Homo sapiens: one gene and its partner. The protein of the gene in region 1 purifies or fractionates together with the protein of each later gene. This does not show direct contact. Each region holds a gene or a part of one and is shown in the gene's direction. Other genes may lie near its edges.

What was found.
Region 2: the proteins of ZNF350 (region 1) and CDK8 purify together in Homo sapiens (affinity purification with mass spectrometry; one large-scale study listed by BioGRID and IntAct). This does not show direct contact.

What each region holds. Positions count from the first base shown.
Region 1 is NC_000019.10:51,966,512-51,969,840, reverse strand, and holds part of ZNF350 (zinc finger protein 350), read left to right. Parts: intron 1-709; coding exon 710-836; intron 837-1,167; coding exon 1,168-1,263; intron 1,264-2,440; coding exon of another isoform or gene 2,441-2,566; exon of another isoform or gene 2,567-2,583; intron 2,584-2,601; exon of another isoform or gene 2,602-2,671; intron 2,672-3,329. UniProt on the Homo sapiens protein: Transcriptional repressor. Binds to a specific sequence, 5'-GGGxxxCAGxxxTTT-3', within GADD45 intron 3.
Region 2 is NC_000013.11:26,400,629-26,404,457, forward strand, and holds part of CDK8 (cyclin-dependent kinase 8), read left to right. Parts: intron 1-640; coding exon 641-719; intron 720-837; coding exon 838-996; intron 997-3,327; coding exon 3,328-3,453; 3' UTR 3,454-3,829.

The sequences.
Region 1 (3,329 bases):
ATTTTATTTTATTAGAGACAGTCTTGCTCTGTTGCTTAGGCTGCAGTGCAGTAGCATGGTCATAACTCAGTGTAGTCTCTAACTCCTAGGCTCAAATGAGCCTCCTGCCTCAGCCTCCCAAGTAGCTGGGACCACAGGCACTCACCACTGTGCCTAGCTAATTTTTTAATTTTTTGTACAGATGGGGTCTCATGTTGCCCAGGCTGGTCTTGAACTCCTGGGCTCGAGTGACCCTCCTGCCTTGGCCTCCGAAAGTGCTGGGATTACAGGTGTGATCTACTGTGCCTGACCAATACTGTGCCATTTTATATCAGACACCTCAGTATCCTCAGGAGGTCCTGGAACCAATACCCTACAGATACTAAAGGATGGCTGTATATATGTCTTTCATTTGCATGTATCTAAAATAAATATATGTACATATATTCATATATATTTACATATATAAAATGTATAAATATATTGTTTTTAGGTTAGCAAGATTTAACTTCTACACTTTATAGAAACTTCCAATTGGGTGAATGGAGGATGACTGAATATACAGTTACAGAATATTATATTAGGACTTTACTTCTTCCACATTGTATTAAAAAAAAAACTATTTGGTATATGCACACAGCCTGTAGAGTGGAAATGAGCAGAAAAACTTTAGCATTTCTTCCACATCATCAAAAAGACATCACTTTATTAAACAGGACTGTTATTACAGGAATCCATAACACTGGAGGATGTGGCTGTGGACTTCACTTGGGAGGAGTGGCAACTCCTGGGCGCTGCTCAGAAGGACCTGTACCGGGATGTGATGTTGGAGAACTACAGCAACCTGGTGGCAGTGGGTGAGGACAGCTGCCCTGTGTCACTCAGAGGGTGCCTAGTCAGTGGCCTTCCTTTCTCAGATGCCTACCTCTTTGGAATGCCTGCAGTACTCTGAAGTGGTAGATTCTCAGATCCTTCTCTTGCTCCCACACAAGACGGTGTAATCTACCCTCTTGTAAGAGAAAAACCTTGATGTTACAGATATGAAACGAAACTTTCATAGTTTCAGATAAGAAACTAAATTTTGGGTATTTTAAGAAACTCAAGTTTCTTGAAATGTAACATTCTTCCTTCTTGACATTGCCAGCCCAATTTGATATGTCTAAGTCCTCTATCATTTTCCATGAACAGGGTATCAAGCCAGCAAACCGGATGCACTCTTCAAGTTGGAACAAGGAGAACAACTGTGGACAATTGAAGATGGAATCCACAGTGGAGCCTGTTCAGGTGAGAGAACCCACAAGACAGAAGGCTATGGAAGTCACATTCTAGACAGTCAGAGAAGGCAGCACAGCTGTGAAGGGGGTTTGAGGATATGTAAACAGTTCCTCTACTCATCTGTCTCCCAGTGTGAGACCAGTTTTTCTTTGTAGGAATTTAGAGTTAAAAAAAAACAAAACAAAACAAAAACTCTTTATCTCCTCAGAGATCTGATTATTTTATCTACATATTGTTTGTTTGCCTGCATAATTTTCTTCTTCCTCGGGTTTCAAGTATTTCCCTTCTTCATGTTGTTCCACCTCTCTTGTTACGAAATTCCACCTTCCAGGCCTCTTTCCAAAGAGGAAACTTTGAAGTCCTCACTGTTTTCGGACTCCCACCCCTTTGTGCCCCTTGGCTAATGCTGACCTCCCCTCCTAACACCTCCCCTGTGATGGATGTGGCTTCCTCAGGGTAAACTGGACTTTCGCTGTGCCTTGGCTTCCTTCGCTTCTCTTTTTCCTTATTCTTAGGTTCTCCAAAGGTCCCGTTCTCCATTTTCTCATCTGTGCCCTTCACTCTTCAAAATTGCCTTCATTCTAGTAAGTTTAAACTCCTTCCGCTCCCTGGAGGAGAGTCCCAAACTGACATCTCCCTGTTGTTATCTAACACAGATTTTAGTTCTGTGTAATTTACTTCATGGCAACTCTCCCCTGAGTTCCTAGTAACTGCAAGGAACTAGAATCATCTTTCCTCCAAGAAAACCATTAAGTTTGGATTTTCGTTTGTTCCTGTACATCCTGAATCTTGGCCATCTGGGTATTACCTGCCTGAAGAGCTCTCTTCTTTAAAGGTCTCTGCTAGTCATGATGCATCTCTAAGTAAAAAAGTCATTTTTTTAACATCCTACATTCTCAACTCCCGCCTACTTCCATTTGGTTCCTTTCTGTATTTAATAATTTGCTTTCGTTTTTTTCCCCATCGTATTCTGATGACACCAAGTCCCAGTAAACCATGTTACCTGTCAAATTTCTCATTTCAGTGATCTCTGTGATATAATACCATCTTGCTCACAAAGAGATTTCCATCCTCTTTCCTAAACCCTGCCTGGTGTGTTCCACACATATGATTACTTCCCTGACTCATTCCCTTAAAAATTATTCATTATTATTATTTATTTTTATTAATTTATTTTTTTTTTAAGACAGAGTCTTGCTCTGTGCCCAGGCTGGAGCGCAATGGTGTGAACTTGGCTCACCGCAACCTCCACCTCCTGGATTCAAGCGATTCTTGTGCCTATCCCCAACACCAGCACCATACCTGGCACACGGTGATCATTCAGTAAGAGTATGTGGAATGAATGAATCTGTTCTTTGGACGAAATGGGCCTCCAGCCTCTGGTCTGCTGGTCACAGTGAATTGCTTGTATTTTAAGGTCTGTTTTGCAAGGCACATTTAGAAAGCAGCCAAATCTGTCTTTATTATTAGTGATCTAACCTTGTTTTATGCTAACTGCTTTCACCTTTTAGTTTGTTTATACTATTACTTTTTGCCAATGTGCAAGGAACATTAAACATGGAGTTTTATTTACACTCAGGTCATAGGGTTATTACTAAGAGACACCTCACATCAAGGCATTAAAAAAAAGAATACTTTGGGGCCGGGTGCAGCGGCTCACACCTGTAATCCCAGAACTTTGGGAGACTGAAGCGGGCAGATCACCTGAGGTCGGGAGTTCGAGATCAGCCTGGCTAACATGGTGAAACGCCGTCTCTACTAAATATACAGAATTAGCTGGGTGCGGTGGTGCATGCCTGTAATCCCAGCTACTCGGGAGGCTGAGGCAGGAGAATCGCTTGAACTCAGGAGGTGGAGGTTGCAGTGAGCCGGGATCATGTCACTGCACTCCAGCCTGGGCTACAGAGTGAGACTCCGTCCCCAAAAAACAAAAAAAAAACAACAAAAAATACTTTGGCTGTGAGCCGGGATTGTACCACTGCACTCCAGCCTGGGCGACAGAGTGAGACTCCGTCTCCCAAAAACAAAACAAAACAAAAAATACTTTGGCTGAGCACAATGGCTCACCTGAGGTC
Region 2 (3,829 bases), on another chromosome or scaffold:
TTGCTCCTCCTCTTATATGGGAACCCAAGGAAATCCTTTATGACAAGCAAAAATGAGCTTTGCTGATTAAAGTGTCATTTAGGGGCTTTCCAGTTAAGAGGCATTCCTGTTCATCTCTTGCTTTATGAAATGCTGATCACATTAGTTTCAGTAGTGATCCAGCTATTCAGTGACAGGTTGGTTATGCGTGCTGTAGCTCCTTACTGTCTGCAGTTACAGTTTCATGTTCCAAAATTGCAAATATTCCCAAATGTGTTCCCTATACCATCTTTTGTTTTGTTAATAAATGTAGTAGGAAGGGTAAAACAAAAATTACCTTTGAATGGTGACACATACTTCAGCTAGAATCTATATTTGGTCTGTATTAATAGAAGAGTAATGCTGGGATAAAAGAAGAAAGCTGAATCATACTCGATGATTATTGATCATTTGTATACAGCTCAAGCCCTCAAGTAGCCTGCTGTAATATTACTAGTTACAAAGAAAAGATTCGTTTTGTCACAGTTACATGAAAGGTGCTTATATTTGCAAATATGGAGACAAAGTTCATCTTAAAAGATTAAAATGAGAATCTCCTAAATGAAGCATTTGGAATATTGATTAGTATACCAGAAATGGTTTTTCTTTTTCTTATGATCAGCGTTTTTGCCGGTTGTCAAATCCCTTACCCAAAACGAGAATTTTTAACGGAAGAAGAACCTGATGACAAAGGAGACAAAGTAAGTATTAAAGTACTGTTAGCAGCTTCTTGTTTCGTGAATGCCTCCATAACATTTTCCATTGTGGGTATATTTTGTTCTCCCTCTGAGCTGAACTTTTTCTGTTTAACCAATTGAGAAGAACCAGCAGCAGCAGCAGGGCAATAACCACACTAATGGAACTGGCCACCCAGGGAATCAAGACAGCAGTCACACACAGGGACCCCCGTTGAAGAAAGTGAGAGTTGTTCCTCCTACCACTACCTCAGGTGGACTTATCATGACCTCAGACTATCAGGTATTCCAAGTTTATTTTGTATTGACTGCATGTCAGTGTTTACATATGGGTTTATGATCGTGGGAAAATGTGATTTAATTGAGAAATACTGACGTCTGTATACCCAGGGAAATACATTAACATGAAATGTTACTGGCATGGAAAAGTACTGACAGTGGTATGGTAGCAAGGGTTTAGACTTTTGAACCAGACTTGGAATGATCAAATACAAATTATGCCATTTATTAACTGTGTGACCTTGGACAAGTAGGATAATATCTCCTGGCGTTTTTTCATCTGTAAAATGAAACTAGTAAAACCTAACTTGCAGCTGTTGTCAGATTAGACATGAAGTGGCTTGACACCTAGCTTATGGTAGGAGCTTGATAGCTATTGTTTTGGAACAATGTTTCACAGTGATTAAGAACATAGGCTTTCAGATCCCAGTCTGGCCACTTACTTCTCTGTATCCTTGAGTAAGTGATTCAGATGTTCTCAGTTTCCATTTGTAGACTGGATAATGATCAATGTGAAGCTGTAGTAAGGATTAAATGAGATAACTCTGGGAGGTTAAGTGTTGCAGCCATTTCAGGAAACTGAGGCTTGTAGAGGTTAAATAACTTTCACATGGATCCCCAGCAAGCTGTAGATGCAGGACTCATATTTGATCTGACCACAAAGGCTGTTATGTTGCCTGCTTAGGGATCCTATCATGGCATTGTCAGTTACGTTGTGGAAAGACCCTCTTTGAAAATTGTATACCACCTCCTTTTCTCTTCTGCTTATTCTAACCATATTCCCAACTACACAAGGGTTCAGTGTGGGAAGGATACTGAAAATCTGACCAATTAGAATTATTTACACACAAAAAAAAAGAGAGAGAGAAAGAGATGTTATTAAACTGATAAGGTCCCGAGTGCTCGTTACTGTACTTTCAGAATTAGGTATTAACTCTTTCTTTTGGTTAGGGGAGAAGTCCAGCCCATCACACCATGGAAATCACTGTTGTGTGAGTAGTAATTCTCTTCCAGTTAGCTAAACAAGGACACCAAGGGCAGACAGCTGTGGGAGTTGTTGGTTCCAGTATCTTTTTCTTCCTTTCCGGATGGGAAGAGTGCATCTCTCTTGGCCCACAAATGTGTTTGCACACTAAGGTGATGGCATCCTTAGAAGGAAGCAGAGCAGTGCTCTGACCTTCGCTTCTGGAACCGAGAAAATGATGCCATGCTGCTTTGTTGGTGTGATTGTTGTTGGTTTTTTGTGGATGAATTTTAAAATAGTATTTGTGACTATCATTTCATGTGTCCACTCTTTTTAAAAATGTTACCTTTTCTAGGATTGGCAGAATTTGGAATTATATGTCTTATTAAATATGCTTTGAAAGACAGAAGTAATAAGTTCTGGTTAATCTTTTATAGTGTTTGTCTTGGGAGCAAATAGTATGAGAGAGAGGTGTGAGAATGGGAATAATAATCTAACATATCAAAATTAGAGAACCCCAAACCATCACATTCTTTCTCTTTGTGCCATTTTAGAATTGAGAATACCGTCCTTCTTACTGTGGTTATATTTTTACTTTTGTATATAAACTTGTAGCAGAAAATAAGATTCAGTAGCTTAAAGGGGCCAGGCACTGTGGCTCATGCCCGTAATCCCAGTGGTTTAGAAGGCTGAGGGGAAGGATCACTTGAGGCCTGGAGTTTGAAATCAACCTGGGCAACATAGCAAGACTCTGTTCCTTCAAAAAAAATTTTTAAAAATTAGCTGAGCATGGAGGTGCATGCCTATAATCCTAGCAATGATTATACCATTACACTCCAGCCTGGATGATAGAGTGACACCCTGTCTCAAAAGAAAAAAAAAATAGTTTAAAGGGCATAAAAATGTATTAATGCCAAAGAAATGGATTCTGTGATACCTTCTCCTATCATACTCACTTTTACTCTTCAGTCATGTGTGTGGGGGTGAGTTTTCTACTGAAGAAAGCATGTAAATAAGCTTTGAATTTTTTATGTATACATCATTAAGTTTCTGGGTAAACATCTCAAGCAAATTTACCAAGTAGATACAAAACAGCATAAAAAGGGGTTACTCCTGTAGAAAAAAATGTATTTGCACAGCATAGTAATAAGCCTAGGCTTAATATTATTTACTAGCAATATTTCTGACCTTCCTCAAGAGAAGAGGATGTTAAAATATTTGGGGTTTTTGTCTTTAATTATAAAGTTAGTACATAGCACAAAACCTATACATCCTTTCTTCCTTGAAACATAATGACACTTCAGTCACATATTGGGATTGAGCTTCCCCTAGAAGCACCTGAATCACACTTTTCCCTCATCTCCTTTCCAGCGTTCCAATCCACATGCTGCCTATCCCAACCCTGGACCAAGCACATCACAGCCGCAGAGCAGCATGGGATACTCAGCTACCTCCCAGCAGCCTCCACAGTACTCACATCAGACACATCGGTACTGAGCTGCATCGGAATCTTGTCCATGCACTGTTGCGAATGCTGCAGGGCTGACTGTGCAGCTCTCTGCGGGAACCTGGTATGGGCCATGAGAATGTACTGTACAACCACATCTTCAAAATGTCCAGTAGCCAAGTTCCACCACTTTTCACAGATTGGGGTAGTGGCTTCCAAGTTGTACCTATTTTGGAGTTAGACTTGAAAAGAAAGTGCTAGCACAGTTTGTGTTGTGGATTTGCTACTTCCATAGTTTACTTGACATGGTTCAGACTGACCAATGCATTTTTTTCAGTGACAGTCTGTAGCAGTTGAAGCTGTGAATGTGCTAGGGGCAAGCATTTGTCTTTGTATGTGGTGAATTTTTTCAGTGTAACAACATTA